Homo sapiens: one gene and its partners. The protein of the gene in region 1 purifies or fractionates together with the protein of each later gene. This does not show direct contact. Each region holds a gene or a part of one and is shown in the gene's direction. Other genes may lie near its edges. The genes, in order: POMP, PSMA6 and PSMG2.

What was found.
Region 2: the proteins of POMP (region 1) and PSMA6 purify together in Homo sapiens (affinity purification with western blotting; 4 studies listed by BioGRID and IntAct, with this or other methods). This does not show direct contact.
Region 3: the proteins of POMP (region 1) and PSMG2 purify together in Homo sapiens (co-immunoprecipitation; 8 studies listed by BioGRID and IntAct, with this or other methods). This does not show direct contact.

What each region holds. Positions count from the first base shown.
Region 1 is NC_000013.11:28,654,298-28,662,202, forward strand, and holds the start of POMP (proteasome maturation protein), read left to right. Parts: upstream 1-4,832; 5' UTR 4,833-4,887; coding exon 4,888-4,890; intron 4,891-7,905. UniProt on the Homo sapiens protein: Molecular chaperone essential for the assembly of standard proteasomes and immunoproteasomes. Degraded after completion of proteasome maturation. Mediates the association of 20S preproteasome with the endoplasmic reticulum.
Region 2 is NC_000014.9:35,309,378-35,316,488, forward strand, and holds part of PSMA6 (proteasome subunit alpha type-6), read left to right. Parts: intron 1-1,362; coding exon 1,363-1,518; intron 1,519-3,503; coding exon 3,504-3,682; intron 3,683-4,983; coding exon 4,984-5,078; intron 5,079-7,111. UniProt on the Homo sapiens protein: Component of the 20S core proteasome complex involved in the proteolytic degradation of most intracellular proteins. This complex plays numerous essential roles within the cell by associating with different regulatory particles.
Region 3 is NC_000018.10:12,719,931-12,726,240, forward strand, and holds the end of PSMG2 (proteasome assembly chaperone 2), read left to right. Parts: intron 1-579; coding exon 580-753; intron 754-4,568; coding exon 4,569-4,689; intron 4,690-5,508; coding exon 5,509-5,601; 3' UTR 5,602-5,810; downstream 5,811-6,310. UniProt on the Homo sapiens protein: Chaperone protein which promotes assembly of the 20S proteasome as part of a heterodimer with PSMG1.

The sequences.
Region 1 (7,905 bases):
ATCAGCTGTATGCTGTGCAGGCAAATGAATAGATTATGGTGAAAATATAAACCAATTCTGAGCACAGACAGACCTAAAATAGGGCTACAAAAGCATGAAAAATGGAATGCTAACTTGCGCCATGTCTGATGCAATGCAGATGTAAAGTAGTAAAATAAAACTCCTGGATTCCAAATAGTCTACTCTAGTACTTATTCTCAAAACCCAGCTTTTCATAATCAGCAGACACTCTTTTAAAAGCAGCTGCATCTGAAATTATAGCTAGTAAAATATTTCAAAATATGAAACACTCATCTCTTAGGGTTAAAGGGTCAAATGAACTTGATATTTCTCCATCTCTTAACACATAGGAAGGGGCTTGCAGAGAAGATTTGTAAATATGACTTATCCTAAATTATGCATATTGAACCCTTCCCAACACTGTAAGAATTTAAATCATTTAAAGAAGATCTGGATATATTTTTTATAACTTATAGATTCTTTTCAGGCCCTCGAAAACCTAGTAATTTTCTTATTGTTTAAGATTTGTATAATACCACTACCCTTATATGAACTACTCCTCCACCCCTAGCCTTGTAGGGAAGCATAATTTTTTTTTTTTTTTTTTTTTTTTTTGAGACAGGGTCTCGCTCTGTCGCCCAGGCTGGAGTGCAGTGGCACCATCTCGGCTCACTGCAACCTCCACCTCCTGGGTTCAAGTGATTCTCCTGCCTCAGCCTCCCGAGTAGCTGGGATTACAGGCGTGCACCACCATGCCCAGCTAATTTTATATTTTTAGTAGACACAGGGTTTCACCATGTTGGCCAGGCTGGTCTTGAACTCCTGACCTCAGGTGATCCACCTGCCTCAGCCTCCCAAAGTGCTAGGATTACAGGAGTGAGTCTCTGCGCCTGGGCCTGCCTCCTTTTTCTAACAGCTGCATCTTTGTCCTTGATTCCCTCTCACAACTGTTCTGGGCATCTGAGAGATCATTATCTCAATCATTCCTTCTTGCTGCTTCTCTTCCCTGCTGTCTTCACTCTTGCCCCTTCACCAACTCTTTCTAACATCTGCCTAACAAACTTTGGTCTGTCCAATCATGCACATGAAACAAAAACAAAACCCAACTTTCATTCAAACCAAAATCCTGATTCTATTTTTTGAAATGGACAACTTTCTGAAAAGAATGATCTATAAAATTTGGCTGCCTCCATTTTCTTCTTATAAATTCTTCATTCCTAACAATCTGGTTTATAGTTAAACTGCTCACCAGAAGATTATGCAAATGACATCCCATTTGCCAAACCCCATCGATCTTCCCATAATCATTATCTGACATCACTGGTCATTCCCTTATCTCAACATCGTATCTTCCTTAGCTCTGAGACATTTTCAGACCTCTCTTCTCTATGCCTCTTCCAGCTTCTTAAGTTCTAAAGAGACACTCACTACATACTAGATTTCAAAATCCTGCTGAGTACCTGCCTAAAGTATGCAAGGCACTGTGCTGTGGAGACAAAGCAGCTTTTAAGAGGGGGCTAACCAAGCAGGCTGGGTAATAGGGTTTGGGTGCCCAGGGCCAAGCTTAGGCAAATAACAGAAAAGAGCAAAGTTAAGTGTAATTTTAGATCGTTAGGGAGCACTAAAATTTAGGTCAGAAGACCCAAATTCAGCTGACAAGATGAAGTACAAGAATAGTACCCAAACAGGAGACAGATGAGGTAACAAATGGGGAAAGAGCTAGGAGGAGGGAGGAGGGTTCTTGCCAGATGTGAATGAAGCTGAATTTGTCCTCAGTTTACCTAGCTATGTCACCAGACTGACTTAAGAGTAAAGTCAAAGACGACTACAAAAAGTAAAACAAAATAGGGTGCTTGTTCTCATACAATGCCTCAGCATTTTCTGTGAAATGTGCATAATGATAGTATCTACCTCACAGGATTAATTGAAACAATATATGCAAAAAACTAAACCCTGGCCTGACATGTAACAAATGTTAGCTATCATTACTAATGTTCTATCCTCTAAGCTATTTAACATAAAGCTTAAGTAAACATAATTAAATCATTCCAGCATCAAATCTAATTTACTTCTTATTTAGCATACTCAAAAGTACCCCGTATTAGTTAATACTGTAACAAACCATTTAAAATAGGACATAAACTTGAGTGTAAGACTCAAAATAAAGGGAATTTTCTCCTTGCTGAGCCACTAAAACAACTCTTCACACTGGTCACCAAAAGCCTATTTTCAGGGCTTTATGATCCCTTTTTAGCTACTTTTGAACTACTTTCTAACCTCTCAATACTTCCTTGCCCTTTTGATTCGAAGATGGCATAGCCTTTAAAGCAGGCTCCCCTTCTTCTGGCTGTCTTTTGAATTCTGGTATTTCTTAGGTTCACTCCTACTTTTTCCTTCCTTTCAAAGCCTTTCCAGTATGTGACACTACCTTAGCGTACCATTAGTGGCTTAAATGGTATCCTGGTTCCTACTTTCTCCCAATCTTAGTCTGTCCTTCATGCTGCCACCAGAATTTTTTTTTTTTAATGCCAAATGTTTGTGAAAAGACCTCCATTATCTCCTGTTGTCTATAAGAAAAAGCCCTAAACCTCAGCATACCATAGAAGGCCCTTCGTTTTGGCCCCAACCTGTCCCTCCAACCTCATCTCATTTTGCTTCACCTGCTCACCCAGAGCTCCAGCCACAGGGAAATGTTTTCCATTACTCAGATAACAACACGACTTTTCACAGATCTCTTGCCTTTACATGTTCCTCTTCCGTGAATGCTGTTTTCTCCTGCTCCCAACAACTTTCTGGTTTAGCCCCTTTCTCTATCAAGCATTTATCACACTGCATTTTATTATTTTATTATTATTATTTGAGATGGAGTCTTGCTGTGTCACCTAGGCTGGAGTGCAGTGGCGTGATCTCTGCTCACTGCAACCTCTACCTCTCAGGTTCAAGCGACTCTCGTGCCTCAGTCTCCTGAATAGCTGGGACTACAAGCATGCACCATGATGTCTGGCTAATTTTTTTTTTTGTATCTTTAGTAGAGATGGGCTTTTGCCATGTTGGCCAGGCTGGTGTCGAACTACTGACCTCAAGTGATCTGCCTGCTTCCAGCTCCCAAAGTGCTAGGATTACAGGTGTGAGCCACTGCACCCAGCCCATGCTGCATTTTAAATATCTGTTTGCATGTCTATTTCCCCAGGAAAATATATAAGCATCTCAGGTACAGGGAATTGCTCTTTTCTTCTTTATAGCTCCAGAATCTAGTACCAAGCAAATGTTCAATACATATTCATTGAACTGTGAGCAATCAGCAAATGTTAAAATGATTTTTAAGAAAAGATTCGCAGTTTTACAATTTCTCAGGTGGAATTGACGGAAAGAAAAAAAGATGCAAACGAAACACTCCAACTCAAATCTCAGGATTAAACATGGCTATTGTGAAGGACCAGAAGACACCTAAAGGACAGCATGGCAGAACACATAACATCTGGAACTTCAAAGTTGTATGACCATGGCAGTGGATATACATAACATATATGGCCTTATCATTTTCCTCTCTCAAATCCTTCGATGGCTTTTTAAAGACAAAGCCTCATCCTTAATCTTGCCTACAAAGGCTGCATAAAAAACCTGTAGCTAGGTCCCATGATGCACGCCTGTAGTTCCCATTACTCAGCCGGCTGCAGCAGGAGAATCGCTTGAGCCCAGGAGTTCAACGCAGACCTGGGCAACATAGCTAAACCCTATCATTATTTAGAACAAACAAACAAAAACAACAACAAAAACCACTTGCCTCCATCTACTTACAACCTCATCTCACAGTACTCTCCACTTTACTTTCTGAACTTTAGCCAGACTTAGGCCTTCTTTCCAGTTCCGTTTTTGCACAAGCAGATCTGCACGTAATGTTGTTTTAAATATCCTACTACCCCAAACTAGTTCGCTCTTATCTTTTAGCTGTCAGTCCAAAGATTCCCTAAGATGTCTCCATCCTGTGGCAGCAGACTATAAGGCCGTTTTATTACATTATATTTGAACAATACAGAATAGTGTAATGAGCATGGATTCTAGACTCATAAATATGTCCTTAGGCATATTTATTTAAGCCCTTCATGTCTCGGTTTCTTCACCTGTAAATTGTACTTGTAAGGTTATTGAAAAGATTAAAAGAGATAAAGGATGTAAGCACTTAGAACTGTGTTGATAACGCAATTCAAAGGGCCCAACATATGTCGGTCATGATCACATTTACTTAATTTGTAGTCACTATCGTCCCCTCTCTCCCCTCTAGCCTCCGGAGTACCCCTGCTCCTCTAGCCCAGAGGCCACACCGGCCTGGTCCTTTTTTGTATTCCTAGCCTCAGCACAGGGTTCGGAACATACCAGGCCTTCAATATTATGTTTTTTAAAAATGACAAAAGCCTTGTGTCCCAATTTTGCTTTATTAGCCGAACGATCTCAAGCAAATCACTCAAACCACCTACGCCTCGTTTACCCTTCTGTGAAATGTAATAGCTACCTCAGAGAGGTTTTGTGTTAAATAAGGCGATGTACCTACAAAAGCACACTGCACATCTTAAAATGCCGTACAAACCGTAGATGTTTATTAATAAACCGGAGTCCGTGTCTTCCCTCCCCTCAGGCACGTCTCGTCCCGACCCCTCCCTCCTCCCAGCCCACACCCTTACTGCGCCCTTGGCCCTGGGTCCCTTGGGATTGCAAGCGTGGGAGCCTCGGCCCCGCGCAGCTCCCTCCGGCGTCCCGCGCCCTCCTTCCTTCCTCGCCAGGACGGACGCACTTCCGGCGGATGTGGGGGCCAGCCCTCGGAAACGGAAGTGAGCGGCGGGGTCGACTGACGGTAACGGGGCAGAGAGGCTGTTCGCAGAGCTGCGGAAGATGGTGAGTGGGTACCCGGGCGGCTGGAGTTCCACGCGGGCTCGGGACCGTGGCTCGGCAGAAACAGGCAGTCGCCTCCCAACCCGTCCCCGGTGGCGGCGGCGGCGGCAGCGTGGGGCTGAGGCCGGCCTCAGGCGCCATAATCTGTCGAGTCACGGGGTTTGGGTGGGTCGTGACTGTCGCCGGGGCCCGGCACTAGTCCCACTAGCAGTGCTTCGGCTTCATCCTGCTCCTCTTAGCTCGGTTTGCGCCCTTCCATCCCTTAGACCCCAGCAGGCCCAGACCTCCTCCCCTTACTTGGCGCAGAAGTGGAAAAGGCAGCCGTGAAAGTGCAACGTTCTGTGGGGTGGCGCTGGCGACCCTTTCCTTGACGGGTAACCTCTGGGAGCCCAGAGCTCTCAGACTCCTCATCTCCCCCAGCCCCCGCCCTTGTAACTGCCTAGTAAACAGCCCACAACTATAGGTCGCATTTGTGTAACGCAGCTTTGCTCTACAAACTTTTTTGAGAGCTTGTAGTGTGCTAGATGTTAGAGGGGAAAAAATCAGACAGTTGCTATTCCCTGTTTGCCAGTATTGTTAGTATATCTCCTCCCTCCTTCTCCTCCCCACCACTTTCTCTTTCTTTTTAACTTAGAAGTTGTGGTATTTGAGAAGAACACTGAGTCACCATTGCCACAGACTCTGATATCGGTACTGCTGGTAGGCCATCCATCCAAATCTAGAAAGTTTCTATTGGTAAATACTGCTAATCGTTATCTAAAAAGTTTTTTAGGCACTCTCAAATGTAACTAGTAGTTAGGTTTTCGTAGATTTGCCTTTCTCGGCTCCTTCCTTTATTAGAAACAGCAAGTACTAATCTTGATATTTTACAGAAGGAAATTGGGAAAAATGACAATAACAGAATCCAGAAGTCAGAATTCACCTTTTCTTTGTGCGTTGAAACCTTGTTACTTTACAATAAAGCAGTCCAGAAGGAGGAGAATGTTCATATAGGGAAGTAATAGAAGATACATTTGGAAAGCAACAATCACACATCTCTGCTGAAGGTCCCCAACTTCTGGTGGTTCAACAATCTTCTGACTTTATGATGGTGTGAAATCCATACACAGTCAGTAGAGGCCATATTTGAGTACCAATACAGCCATTCTGTTTTTCACTTTCAGTACAGTATTCAATAAATTACATGAGATACCCAGTACTTTTTAATAAAGTAGGCTTTGTATTAGATGATTTTGGCCGACTGTAGGCTAGTGTAAGTGTTCTGAGCACATTTAAGGTAGGCTAGGCTAAGGCCTGATGTTTAGTAGGTTAGGTGTGTTAAATGTGTTTTTGACTTTTGACATTTTCAATTTAAGATGGATTTATTAGGAAGTAACCCCATCATAAGTCAAGGAGCATTTGTAGTCCTGGTAGGAGTTCAGCTCCTTGGTGCAGATGAGTAAACAAGGCCAGAGAGGTTGGTGCTTTGCTGGCAGTCACAAAGTAGGTTAGTGACAGTCCACACTAGAGTCCAGATTCTTTTCCTCGTCCACCATGACTTCTTGTATGTAGGGGAGTTGGAACCTATTATGCAGGTTCTTTAGGTCCAGGCTAAGGAGTCTGAACTTTGTGCTTCAGACATCGATGAACCAACAAAGATTTTATAGCAGTTTTGTTGGAGGAGGTTTCATGCTTGAGGAAAACCTTGATATACAGAACTGGAAAATGGGTGAGTCTAAAGGCAGCAAGACCCAGTAGAATGCTGTTGAAGTTATCCATGTGTGATAGGCTGGGCTGGAGTGGTATAGTGAAGAAACCCTGCAAAGGATAAAATACCTGACTAAATCAAATATACAAACGAATTAAGAAATCAGTTAAAAAGCTGACTTCTCAGAATATTTTCTTCTAGAATAATATAAAATTTGATACTAAAACTACCTGTAGCTGTTTTACATTTTTCTGCAGAATCACAGGGATATTGGACTTGAGCAACAAGTGATTTAAAGTTAGCGTCTTGGGCCGTGCATGCTGGCTGACACCTGTAATTCCAGCACTTTGGGGGGTGCTGAGGCAGGAAGATGGCTTGAGCACAGGAGTTTGAGACTAGCCTGGCCATCATAGTTGAGACCTTATCTCCACAAAAAATAAAAAAATTAGCCAGGCGTGATGTTGCACGCCTGTAGTCCCAGCTACTTGAGAGGCTGAGGCAGGAGGATCGCTTGAACCTGGGAAGTCTAGGCTGCAGTTAGCCGTGATTGCTCGACTGCATTCCAGCCTGGATGACAGAGCAAGACCCTATCTCAAAAAGTAAATAAATAAAGTTAGCATCTCATGCTTTGCCTGTTGTAACACCATGTTTTCTTTGCTTGTTTAATATATTTTCATAAGCTGAAGCCCCGGGAGGTAGACATGTAGCTTCAGTATCTAGCAGAGTACCTGACACATAGTAGATGGCTAATAAGTATCTGGTGATTGCGCATTTCACAGTAGCGTAGGGTAATCATACACCAATACCAAATGCACTGTCTTTTTTACTTTGTTTTATACTATCCTGATTAGATACACATAGTTTTTATAGGTAGCGCTATCTTCATATAGAAACCAAACACTTTCTGAAATTCCCTTTTTTTCCCAGCTTCTCTACTTTTCTTTATCCATCCTGTCTGTTAATCCCATTTCTGTGTTGTTTTTCCTTGTCCTCAGGGAATAGTATTCCCGAGGATGCTGTCTTCAACTTTTTTATTCTGTGTTATACACTCTAACCTAAGGGAGTGGTTTTTCCAGGGGAAACAAATTCAATCATGCCATAACCTTTCAGAGGCTTTCAGTTTTGGAATAAAACCCATATTTCTTTGCACATAAGATGTTTCACTTTTGTATTTCATCAGCCTTTACTTCTGCCTCACTGGAAACATATTTAGCCAGTTATCTCAAACTACCTGAAGCTTGTTCATTTATATTTTCTTGCCTTTATTCATGTTATTTTTTCCTGGAATGCCTTTCAAACTGACAGCATTCAGAGATCACCTCAGGAATCCT
Region 2 (7,111 bases), on another chromosome or scaffold:
AGTGGCTCACAGTTGTAATCCCAGCACTTTGGGAGGCCAAGGTGAGAGGATTGTTTAAGACCAAGAGTTCAAAACCAGCCTGGGCAACATGGTGAGACTCCATCTCTATAACAAATTTAGAAATTAGCTAGGGGCTGGTCACGGTGGCTCACACCTGTAATCCCAGCACTTTGGGAGGCCGAGGCAGGCGGATCACTTGAGGTCAGGAATTCGAGATCAGCCTGGCCAGCGTGGTGAAACTCCATCTCTACCAAAAATACAAAAATTAGCTGGGCATGGTGGCGCACGCACACCTGTAATCCCAGCTATTCAGGAGGGTGAGGCAGGAGAATTGCTTGAACTCGGGAGGCAGAGGTTGCAGTGAGCTGAGATTGTACTACTGCACTCCAGCCTCGGCAACAGAGTGAGACTGTCTCAAAAAATAAAAACAAAAATACCAAAAAACTTAACCAGCTATGGTGGCAGGTGCCTGTAATCCCAACTACTCAGGAGGCTGAGGCAGGAGAATCGCTTGAACCCGGGAGGTAGAGGTTGCAGTGAGCCAAGATCATGAGACTGTACTGCAGCCTGGGCAACGGAGCAAGACTCCATTTGAAGAAGAAAAAAAAATTAGCTGGTATGGTGGCACATACCTGTAGTCCTAGCTACTCAGGAGGCTGAGGTAGGAGGATCACTTGAGCCAAGGAATTCAAGGCTGCAGTGAGCTATGATGGCTCACTGGGTGCCAGTCCAAGACCCCATCTCTAAAAAAAAAATGAAAAACTAATTTAAGCCTAAAAACAAAGATTAAGAAAGATTATTCTCTCTCAAGGCCTTTTTTTTTTTTTTTGGAGACAGAGTCTCACTTTGTCGCCCAGGCTGCTCCGCCTCCTGGGTTCAAGCAATTCTCGTGCCTCAACCTCCCAGGTAGCTGGGACTACAGGCATGCACCACCACGTGCAGCTAATTTTATGTTTTTAGTAGAGACAGGATTTAGCCATGTTGGCCAGGCTGGTCTCAAACTCCTGGCCTCAAGTGATCCGCCTCTCTTGGCCTCCCAAAGTGTTGAGCCACCATGCCCTGCCTCCTTAATGCTTTTTCTTTTGGGAGTTACTGGATACTTGCAGAAACTATTTTGACTGCTGATGAAAGGCTCAGTATAAAAGGGGAGTACTGTGTAGAGAGCTTCATGTTTTTAAATTTTTTTCATATACTTGTTGATGAGTTATTTAGTATTCATTGGGGGAGAAAAAGCCGTAGCGGACCCTTTCTCTTTAACTCATGTATGTCTATATGGTGGGAAAATTGCCTGGCTAAATTGCCTGGCTTTCAGGTTTGTTCTTTCCTTCTAACCAGGTAAATCTTTGTTTTTTATGCTATAAGCTGACAGCAGATCCCAGGTACAGAGGGCACGCTATGAGGCAGCTAACTGGAAATACAAGTATGGCTATGAGATTCCTGTGGACATGCTGTGTAAAAGAATTGCCGATATTTCTCAGGTCTACACACAGAATGCTGAAATGAGGCCTCTTGGTTGTTGTAAGTATGCTAAGAGGTCTCCCAAATAATTGATGAATTGAAACTTTTTACAGAACATGTATACAGAATTATTTAAATAACACTTGAGTTCTGAACATGTGGTTTGGAAAATACATAGAGTGGGAAAATCTTTATAATAAATCAGAACTAAAGGATAGGTTTCACAACAGTATGTCGGGCATTATCTTTAAGCTTTAGATGCTGTTAGACTTTTTATCAAAGTATTTCCATTTGGTGTATGTGATTTGAAAGATGCAAGTCCTCATTATTAGGATGTTGTAATGAGGTTCTACTGCAATTCGAGATTACTAATTCCATAGAAATACCTGCATCAGGCATCTTAATAATGTAGCTGTTTGTTTTGACCACCCTAAAGAATTAGGGTCACACACAGGTGTGTAATTCACATTTTTAGAATAAATTTCTATTTTTGAAAACAAGTAAAATTGTATTGGGAGAGGGATGAGATTTACTGATTTTTAGATGTGATGTAATAAATTAGCCTGAAAAATTCAGTGCATGTTTGTTTCTGACATTGTGTCATTCATTTATGAGCATTAAAGCAGTCAGTGTAATGATTTCTGTTTAGCATCTGACCCTCTTGACTTCTCACTTAAAAATTACTTAAATCATATTCATCTTGCAAGACCTTGAAGGAAAGAAGTATTTGTTGTTTCCCCAAGCAGTAAGTGGGTACTTTTTTGTGTTGCCCTTATATTTTGTATATATCAAATATAAGAAAGCAGTCAAACCATTAAGTACTTTGTTACCTGTTCTACTGAGTAGAAAGAAATTTAATGATGGTGTTTATTTTAATTGTATTCCTATAATATGGTAACATTAGAATTGTAGTAACAAAGTTACATGTATAGAATTTAGAGCTTGGTTTGTGTGACTTACTAGAGGAGTATATACCAACAGTAATGAAGATGGGCAGTGTAAAGGTGAGCAGGTAGCCTGTAAGTGTATTTCAGTTTGTGCCAGCATTCCCAAAGTGTGTCCCATACACTGTTCCCTGGAACCTTAATAGGTATTTCTATTTTAAAAAAAAAGTATTTCTTGGTCAAACAAACAGAAGAACTACTGAGTTAAAGTTAAATAGGTCAATCTACAACAGAATATTTCACAGCATTTAATATGCTATTATTTATTATCTGTTTCCAGAAAAGGTATATGAAAGTGTTTTTGGGCCAGGCACAGTGGTGCACACTTATAATCCCAGCACTTTGGGAGGCCGAGGCAGGAGGATCACTTGAACCCAGGAGTTCAAGACCACCCTGGGCAACAGCGAGTCCTCGTCTCCTAAAAAAAAAAAAAAAAAAAAAGGTTGGCCAGATGCAGTGGCTCACGCCTGTAATCCCAGCACTTTGGGAGGACGAGGCAGGTGGATCACAAGGTCAGGAGATCAAGACCAGTCCTGGCTAACACGGCGAAACCCGGTCTCTACTAAAAACACAAAAAATTAGCTGGGCGTGGTGGTGGGCACCTGTAGTCCCAGCTACTCGGGAGGCTGAGGCAGGAGAATGGCGTGAACCCGGGAGGAGGAGCTTGCAGTGAGCCGAGATCGTGCCACTGCACTCCAGCCTGGGAGACAGAGCGAGAGTCTGTCTCAAAAAAAAAAAAAAAAAAAAAAAAAAGTGTTTTTGAAGTTTATTTGACCAGGCAACATCTTGAAGGATTAGGGTTCAAATAAACATGCTTGGATAACAGCAAGGATTGGAAACACTATTTTTAAATTGTATTTGTAATTATTCAAACTATTTTTTTTAATCTGTGATAAATCCTTTTGTGAAATGGGAATTTACCTGTTACCTAATTTACCTGTGGTGATAACCTGTATTTTATCAGTTTTCTTAAAGGAAAATACATATCCTAAAATTGATGGCCAAAGTCATGATTAGCAGCAGCTATGTGACACCACCAAGAAAGAGGAGATGTCATTGTATAAAGCTAAAACATTTAATTAGGGTCTTTTCTCTTTTTAGGTATGATTTTAATTGGTATAGATGAAGAGCAAGGCCCTCAGGTATATAAGTGTGATCCTGCAGGTTACTACTGTGGGTTTAAAGCCACTGCAGCGGGAGTTAAACAAACTGAGTCAACCAGCTTCCTTGAAAAAAAAGTGAAGAAGAAATTTGATTGGACATTTGAACAGACAGTGGAAGTAAGTCAACCAAAAGGAGCTGACTTTTTTTATGCTATATAGAACAGTGAGGATCTTTGTATAATTTCTATACAAAGCTATTCCTGAATTACATCCCAGGATTCAAGTTGTCAACTTAATAATGAAATTGATATCATACAGCTGACATAGGAAAATTTGAGTTGCTTTTATTCACTTAATTCCTTATTTCGTAATGTATTTGAGGTGGCTTTCAACAAAACGCATATAATAGGAAAATATAAATAAAAATAGGAACCAGCTGGGCATGGTGGCACACACCTGTAGTCCCAGCTACTTGAGAGGCTGAAGCTGGAGGACTGCTTGAGTCTAGGTGTTCGAGGCCAGTCCTATTTACTGCCAAGAAATTAAAAACAAAAATTTTAGTAGATTTTGGGTGTAAGTCTGGAATTAAAGCCATTCTGAAGATGCTAACAACATGCTTCTGATAAGTGACCAAAAAAAAATTACCATCTAATGCTTTTACGTTTGGTTTGGAAGTATGCTTAAAGGAGATAAAAAGCTAGTTCATGTTCAGGAAGTACTGGGCCCTGTCTAAATATTTCTTAAAGGTTTCTTTTATTGCAATTCATAATTAATTACATAAATAACCACATCCGGTAAAAAAACACTTAAGGTGGCTCACACCTGTAATCCCAGCACTTTGGGAGGCAGACAGATCACCTGAGGTCAGGAGTTTGAGACCATCCTGGCCAACATGGCGAAACCCTGTCTCTATGAAAAATACAAAAATTAGCCGGGCATGGTGGCAGGCGCCTGTAATTCCAGCTACTCAGGAGACTGAGTCAGGAGACTCGCTTGAATCCACGAGCCTGAGGTTGCAGTGAGCCAGGCTGGCGCCACTGCACTCCAGACTGAGCGACAGAGTGAGACTCTGCCTCAAAAAACAGAAACAAAACAAACAAACAACACTTAAAACATTCTTAAATCGTTTTTACTGTAAATTCCTTGAAGATGCAGAGAGTATCATTCATCTTTATCCTTTTCCCATTTCACCCCAAGTGCTAAGTGAAGTGTAGTGCCTGGGTCATGAAGCCAATAAACCTTTTTGTATAAATCATCCTATTTTAATTAATGGACCCCTTTATTATTTGACTTGGTAGAAAAAAATTTCTCATCATTGGGAGGCAATACATTAGAGTTAAGCAGTCTGTTAGTAACATTGAACTACCTCATTGAAACATGGAGCTCCTGATTGACTCATGATTTGAATAAGCTAGGAATGAGAAAACCTTGGAATCTCTAAAAAATACTATATTTTAACATTAAATACTTTTTTTCAGACTGCAATTACATGCCTGTCTACTGTTCTATCAATTGATTTCAAACCTTCAGAAATAGAAGTTGGAGTAGTGACAGTTGAAAATCCTAAATTCAGGTGAGTGATATTGTGGGCCACATGCAGACTAGAAAGGTGGAGGCGTGTGAGTCCATGTGTCCTATAACTTGTGGGGGAAATCTTTTTTCTTTAACTGTCATTATAGTTTTTGTTTGTGTGTTTGTTTTTTTCCCCAGCACCTGAGATCTGTTTTTAAAACTTTGGACTCTATTTAAGAGTCAGATATGAAAGCTTTTCTCCTTATTTCAGAGTGATTTTATATCTAACACCAGAGATGACATAAAGTTACCTTCCTTATGTAAGGAAAAAAATTAGCATAAGTGTTTTCTTTTTTTTAGTTTAAGGCCAATACAAATTCAATTCCCAAAGTAGTAGTTTGCAAGTTTTTCAGATAGAACTTTGGTTATTTAGTGGTTATTTAAGTAGAACTTTGAGGAGCAATATGAGTTACTGATATATGTCAGACCCTTATCTAGAGATCTTTGGAAAGCCCAAATTTTGAATACAGCTAATTGACTTGCAGTTGCTGGATGTGTGTGTGTGTGTGTGTGTGTGTGTGTGTGTGTGTTCTTACTCACTAAGTGACTAACTCCCACACATCAGCCTTATAGCTTCCATGATTCAAATCCATACTGAGTGCTTCGTATAATCAGCTCATTTAATCCTCCCAGCAGCCCTGTGAGGCAGTTGATATACCATGGACCAGGATGCTCTTATCTTTAATGAAAATACTGCAGTTAAATCGACAGATACAAGGAACTACTGGGAGGCATTTTAACTATTATGTGTATCTATTCTTAGATCACAACCATAAAGACACATGGTCTTGGTTGTGGTGTGGGGTACGGGAGTGGTAAACTAAGCTTAACTAGACCTTGAAGAGGTTTTTCGTTTGTTCTTTTTTTTCCTAATTTGTTCTTTTGGTTGCCCACAGATAAGTCATATAAACATGACAGATTCAGAAAAATTCATAGGACTTTAAAAAAAAAAAAACAGCTGGGTGCTGTGGCATGCATCTGTAGTCTCAGCTCCTCAGGAGGCTGAGGCAAGAGGATGGCTTGAGCCTTGGAGTTGAAAGCTGTAGTGCGCAATGATAGTGCCTGTGAATAGCCACTGCACTCTAGCCTGGGTAACATAGTGAGACCTCATCTGTTAAAAAAACAACCGACAACACCAAAAGCGAATCTATCCTAGCTTTTCTTCCCGTAGGAAGAAGTCTTGTAACTTGGGTTGGGGTAGGGGTGAGGGGTGGGGGCAGGGATCAAGTTGCTTTTGAAAAAGGTGCCTTTTTTTTTTTTAAGTAAAAATTTCAGCAAGAATAATCTTAAAATCTCTCTAAGGAACCTACAATTAGTTCTTGTTTTCTTTTCTGTTTGGAGACCTTCCTGCCACCTTTAAAATTGTATTTGTTATTTTTTAAATTGGTAAGGAATCAAAAATCTTGTCTTCAAAAAACTTTGTATCATTTATAAATTCTGTGATAGTAAATATATGTAAATAATTACAGTACATAGCATAAGCATCAACAACTATTTAAACTGCTTGATATTGCCTTCAGTTGCACTAAAAAATGTCCTTTTGACAAATTTCACTTTTTAGAAGTCTAGTAGTAATAGGTCACATTAACAAGGTTGCCAAACAATTGCTTCCTTTCGAGGCAAACATCATTTAGAAAATACATGTTCAGGGCCACACATGGTGGCTCACACCTGTAATCCCAGCACTTTGGGAGGCCAAAGTGGACAGATCACTTGAGGTCAGGAGTTTGAGACCAGCCTGGCCAACATGGTGAAACCCCATCTCTACTAAAAATACAAAAATTAGCCAGATGTGGTGGTGGACGCCTGTAATCCCAGCTGCTTGGGAGGCTGAGGCAGGAGAATTGCTTGAGCCTGGGAGGCGGAGGTTGCAGTGAGCCAAGATTGTGCCACTGCACTCCAGCCTGGGCGACAGGGTCAGACTCCATCTCAAAAAAAAAAAAAAAAAAGAGAAAGGAAATATATGTTCAACATGGAGCACTCTCTGGCTGGTAGACTATTCATAGAATTATAACTTTATTTTCATGAACTTCT
Region 3 (6,310 bases), on another chromosome or scaffold:
GGTCTCGAACTCCTGACCTCAGGTGATTTGCCTGCCTGGGCCTCCCAAAGTGCTGGGATTACAGGCATGAGCCACCACGCCCGGCCCCAAGATGTAGCATTTAGATCATTTATTTTTTATTTTTTATTCTTTTGGGGATGGAGTCTCACTCTGTCACCCAGGCTGGAGTGCAGTGGCACAGTCTTGGCTCACTGTAACTGTTTTAGATGATGTAGATCATAACTTTTATCACTTAGACACCTATAAAACCAGGATGAAAAAATACCAACAAGCCAAGAGTTACCTTTCAAAATGAGCTAATTTCCAGGACTTTCACAAAAGACATTACAGGCTTCATGGCAGAAGGGAGGAAAGCTGTGGGAAATTTTTGCAATGGGCTTGCCTAAGTGTTTCTGTCTTTTTATATTGTCTCCTAAGTAAGTAAGTAAGTAGCAAATCAGAGCAATATTTTTTACTTAAGTCTGCTGAAACTTGTGTTTTGCCTGTGCAGCAGAATATATGGAGACCAAGAGAATTTTAGCTAAAGAACCGATGTTTGCTTTAGAGTTTTTAAAAAGTTAACTATATGATTATTTCTAGTACTCCCTTCCGGTACCTACTTACACCTTCCATGCAAAAAAGTGTTCAAAATAAAATAAAGAGCCTTAACTGGGAAGAAATGGAAAAAAGCCGGTGCATTCCTGAAATAGATGATTCCGAGTTTTGTATCCGCATTCCGGGAGGAGGTATCACAAAAACACTCTATGATGAAAGGTGAGTTTGTTTGCCTGTTCATTTGTTTCCCACTTTACTTAAAAATGAAATTAATGCAGTGAGCTGAGATCGTGCCACTGCACTCTAGCCTGGGTGACAGAGCAAGACTCTGTCTCAAACAAAAAACAACAACAAAAAAAACAAAATTAAGTCAGAGAATGTATTGGATTACTTACTGAAACTTTGAGAATATATTGCTAGGCCGGGCACGGTGGCTCACACTTGTAATCCTAGCGCTTTGGAAGGCCGAGGCAGGCGGATCACGAGGTCAGATCAATCAAGACCAGGAGATCGAGACCATCCTGGCTAATATGGTAAAAACCTGTATCTACTAAAAATACAAAAAATTAGCTGGGCGTGATGGTGGGCACCTGTAGTCCCAGCTACTCGGGAGGCCGAGGCAGGAGAATGGTGTGAACCCGAGAGGCGGAGTTTGCAGTGAGCCGAGATCGCGCCACTGCACTCCAGCCTGGGAGACAGCAAGACTCCGTCTCAAAAAGAAAAAAAGAAAATATATTTACAAAACTGGTACTATTGTAGAGCTCTTGCATTTAGGGGAAAGATTTAAACTTGGTTATAGAAGAACTGGTTTCTCAAAAGCCATATTTAATGCTTTTATTTTGTGTGACTTTTTAGGGATTCTAATACTTATTCTTTGCAACCTCTACACGCGCACTTTTTTTTAATTGTGGTAAAATATACATCGTGCAAAATTTACATTTATCACACATTTTAACTATATTTAAGCGTACAATCAAGTGCCATTAATTCACAGCATCTGCATCCATCAGCACTGTCTACTTCTAGAACTTTGTCGTCATACTAAATTAAAAAATCTGTACCCATAAATAATAACTCCCAACTTTATTTCTGTAAAATTGGTGTTGATGTTCCCATTTTCATTTCTTATTTTAATAATTTGAGTCTTTTCTTTTTTTTCCTAGTCAAGCTAGCTAAAGATTTGTCAGTTTTGTTTTTCTTTGAAGAACCAGTTTTGATTTTGCTGATTATTGTTTTTCTATTCTCTATTATTCTATTATTCTCTATTATTTCTCTCTTACCTAATCTTTATTTTTTTCCGCTAGCTTTGGATTTGATTTGCTTTTTTTTCTCTTTTCCAAGGTGTAAACTTAGGTTATTAATTTAAAAGTTTTTTTCTTTTTTACTGAATGTGTTTACAGCTGTAAATTTTCCTCTTAGTGCTGTTTTCACTGCATGCCCTGGGATTTGACATGTCGTGTTTTCATTTTCACTCATCTCAGTATTTTCTCATTTCCCTTGTGTTTTTGTTCCGTGTTCCTCTCTTGTCCCCCTTGCAAACACCTACCTCCTTTCTAAGAGTCAACTTACCCTTCACCTCCTGTCTGCAATCTTGCCTTTTCCTGTCTTCTAGACAAGGAAGTTGCGTCTGCACTCCCACTGCACTCCACCTCTTCTATACTTTGTTGCACTTACTTTACCAATCAATCCTCCTAAACTTTTGCTTCTGACCAAGACAGAGTAACTGATATCAGACTTGCCCTCCTGCCATAAAAATACTGGAACCTGACAATTTATGAAACAACTGTTTTCCAGACATTGGACTACAGGCAGCACATAGCTGTCATCCCTAAGAGAAGGCAAATTTTAAGTCTACAGTTGCCTGGCTTTCTGCTTGAGATACTTTCTGGACTGCAGCACAGGGAGCGGAACCCAAGCAGAGCTGAGTGGAGGAAATCAGTTAAGACTACAGGGAGGCCGAGGCAACTGGAAATACAGGGCAGAGAATCCGAGGGCAGGGGTGCTGCTCATCAGAGTCCAGGGGTCTGTTTCCTTGGGTCTGTCTTCTTGGGTATAGGGTGAAACTATGAGGACAGGCAAAGAACAGCTTCTGGTTAGCTATAAGCTTGCCCACAAAGTTAGCGGTGATAAACAGAAAGTATTATAAAAGTTAGACCTACTCAGCATCAAACATTCAGGAAATGCGGATTTTACCCTGAAGAAACAATATTTAAAATACTCAGTTGTATCAACCAGAATAAAATAGTTCCAAATAAAAAAGTAATAATAATAGTCATCCTCTGCCTTTCTTTTTAGCAGAAGACCAGAGGGTAATATTGAAATGATTATCCCACACTGTGTGACAAACTAATAAGAGGCGCGATAAGCTGAAGAGCATACCCCTGCGCTTTCCAAGTTAGAGCCTTGAAAATGCAAGCACAGCCTCGGAGCCAGCCTTCTCCAGGCGAGAGCCTTGCCTGAGGCCATCACAGCAGACGCATTTAGGAACTGGAATTTTCTGAGCCATCAGAGCTCATAGTGGTTCCATACAAAGATTGAGAGCCCCTAAGGTGTTTGAGAACCAAGTACTGGGCTAGGGTGAGTGAGGCTAACAGTTTCTACTTTGTAGTTTTTAGAGACAGAAACTAAAGTTAGCCTGGTATCATCTGAGACTTCCGAATGTATATATCAGAGTCTCCTCGGTGCCTTTCCTTCCTTAGAACTCGGCTCACTTTTATTTCTGTAGCTCTCTTCTCTGTCAGTCTCGTGCTTTCAAGTTTTGGCATGGCATTTTTCTCATAGTTCTTGGTTTTAGGGTGTTAGGAGTAATTTTTGCATTTATTGGCAAGCAGGAAACTTTTTGCCTTGGTGTATCTCCATCTCATCACTAGCTTGAGGCGTTTATAGTATGATAGGAGACTATGTTTTGGAGTTAGAGAGACCTAACTAGATATAGTTAGATATAGAGACCTTACTAGATATAGAACTTTGGGCATGTTAACTATGTATTAAATCTTTTTTTCTTCATTTGCGACAGAGTCTTGCTCTGTCTCACGCAGTTCTCCTGCCTCAGCCTCCTGAGTACCTACAGGCACATGCCACCATGCCCAGCTAATTTTTATATTTTTAGTAGAGACGGGGTTTCACCATGTTGGCCAGGCTGGTCTCGAACTCCTGACCTCAAATGATTTGCCCACCTCGGCCTCCCAAAGTGCTGGGATTACAGGCTTGAGCCAGCGCGCCCAGCCTGTATTCAATCTCTTTAAACCTGTTACCTCATAAAAGTAGCTAATACTTCTTTCATATTTACTGTGTGGTCACTGTTTTAAGCATTTTGCCTCCACTACCTCCTTTCAGCCTCACAACAACCTGTGAAGTAGGTTCCATTATCATCCCCCTTTTATAGATGAGGAACACCCCTGGTTAAGTAACTTGCCCAACATATCTGGTAAGTTGAAGAGCTAGAATCTGAATCCTGGTGTCTGTCTTTGTTCCCGTTATTCCAAACTGATTCACTTATAAAATGGAGCTAATTATAGCTTCTTCAGGATTATTACAGGGATTGTCATAAAATTTGCAGATAATGCTTAACACATAATAACCACTCAGCGTTTTCGGAAGAAGTAGGAACTTTTATTTCCTTTAATGATTCCATTCTCTTCCACAGTTTCCCTCACTGCTTTAGATAGTAACTAGGTGTTATTTTCTTTCAGTCTCTGCTGTGGTGCTTCTGAAAATTACTGTCTTCTGAAGTAGGTTTGGGGAGTAGGTCAGAACATACCTTATCTGCTGTAGCCAAGGACAGAAAGGCTGGTTTTTCATGCAGCCATGGGGTGAGGCATGATTGTGCGTGTTCCCCAGTGGGTGTTACAGGGGCCTGCTCTCACAAGTAGAAAACTCTGTGTGGGGCGAAGGGAGATGATAAGTGATCTTATGGTGTGGCGTCTTTTCCTTTCCTAAACCAGGTAGGTTATCGTAGCTGTAAAAACAGACACACTAGAGTCAGCTCTTGTACCCTATGAAAGAATACTGATTCTTATTTTTATTTCTTGTAGCTGTTCTAAAGAAATCCAAATGGCAGTTCTGCTGAAATTTGTTTCAGAAGGGGACAACATCCCAGATGCATTAGGTCTTGTTGAGTATCTTAATGAGTGGCTTCAGATACTCAAACCACTTGTAAGTTCTATTATAGCTTAAGCCTCTTCTTTGTCTGGTTGTATTCATTAACTCGCACTTTATATACTACCTAAGTAGACCAAGTAAGTGAACGTTTGTATTAAATATAGACATATCTTTACATAAAATTTAGTTTAAGCTGAACTTTTGAAAATTAGAGGACAGTTAACCAACCTATTATTTACAGTTTTTTCATTAAAGCTGACTTTCCAAAAAGGAAAATCCTTAGTTCTTCATTGTACTTACTATTCATGTTAGATTAATTATGCCAGACATAGTCTTGCAATAATAAACAAGCCTTCTGTGGAATTCAGGAATTTTTTTAGGGAAGTAAAAAGTATTGCTATGTGAGCAATACTGTAGCTATTGAATATGTATTACAGTTGATATTTTTCTCTATTATGAAATGAGAGCATTACACCCAGGGAAGTGAGTTAGCCTTTAGGCATAACAGAACACTGAGCATAAGGCTGCTTTCTAAGATGGGTAACTAGCTTTTTAATTCATGCTTTTGCCAAGAACAAATTGATACAAATCACATAATGCTGATTTTTTTTTTAATCCCTATTCTTTTTGAATGTGATTTTCCCTAATAAACTTCATCTACAGCCTTTCTGGCATATCTTTATAATTTGGAACTTAAAGAAATTTATCTTCAGTTGACATGAAGACAAAGAAACTTTATTTTTCCTTAACAATAAAACCTGGCTATAAAAGTGCCAACCAAAAGGAACACAAAAGGAGAGTTTTATAATTCACTTTAAAAGGAGATTTGATGGTAAAGTTTAAAGATTAAAATATTTTGTTCTTCAATTACAGAGCGATGACCCCACAGTATCTGCCTCACGGTGGAAAATACCAAGTTCTTGGAGATTACTCTTTGGCAGTGGTCTTCCCCCTGCACTTTTCTGATCTAATTTCTGTTTTATACCTTATACCCAAAACACTTACTACCAACACAGCTGTTAAACATTCTATACAAAAAAATTGTATGATCTGGTATTAGGAAATTACTTTCACAGTAAATATCAAAGAAAAAAGATTAAGGGTCTCTTTGCCATGCTTTTCATCATATGCACCAAATGTAAATTTTGTACAATAAAATTTTATTTCCTAAGTAATTTTGTCTTAAATGTATTTTTTTTAATTTCAGACTCTCTATTAGCTTCCTAGTTTGTCTCTAATAAATCACCACAAACTTAGTGACTTAAAACACACCAGTTTAATTTTTTCATTAACTAATTAATTAATTTTCATTCTGTATTTTAAGTAAAATGAGACGAGGTCTTGCCATGTTGCCCAGGCTGGTCTCAAACTCCTGGGCTCAGGCAATCCTCCTGCCATGTCCTCCCAAAGTGCTGAGATTACAGGCATTACACCACTATGCCCAGCCACAAATTTGCTTTTAAATTCTGACTTCTGAGTTCTAGGAGTCAGAAATCCAACAGTGGGTCTGACGAGACTAAAATCAGGGTGATCGCAGGGCACTGCTCCTGAGGAAGGCCTTAGGGAGAATTTGTGTTCTGCTGTTTCCAGCTTCTAGAGGCTGCCATATTATTTGGCTCATGGGCCCTTCTATCTTCAAAGCCAGCAGCTTAGCATCTTCAAATCTCTCAGTTAT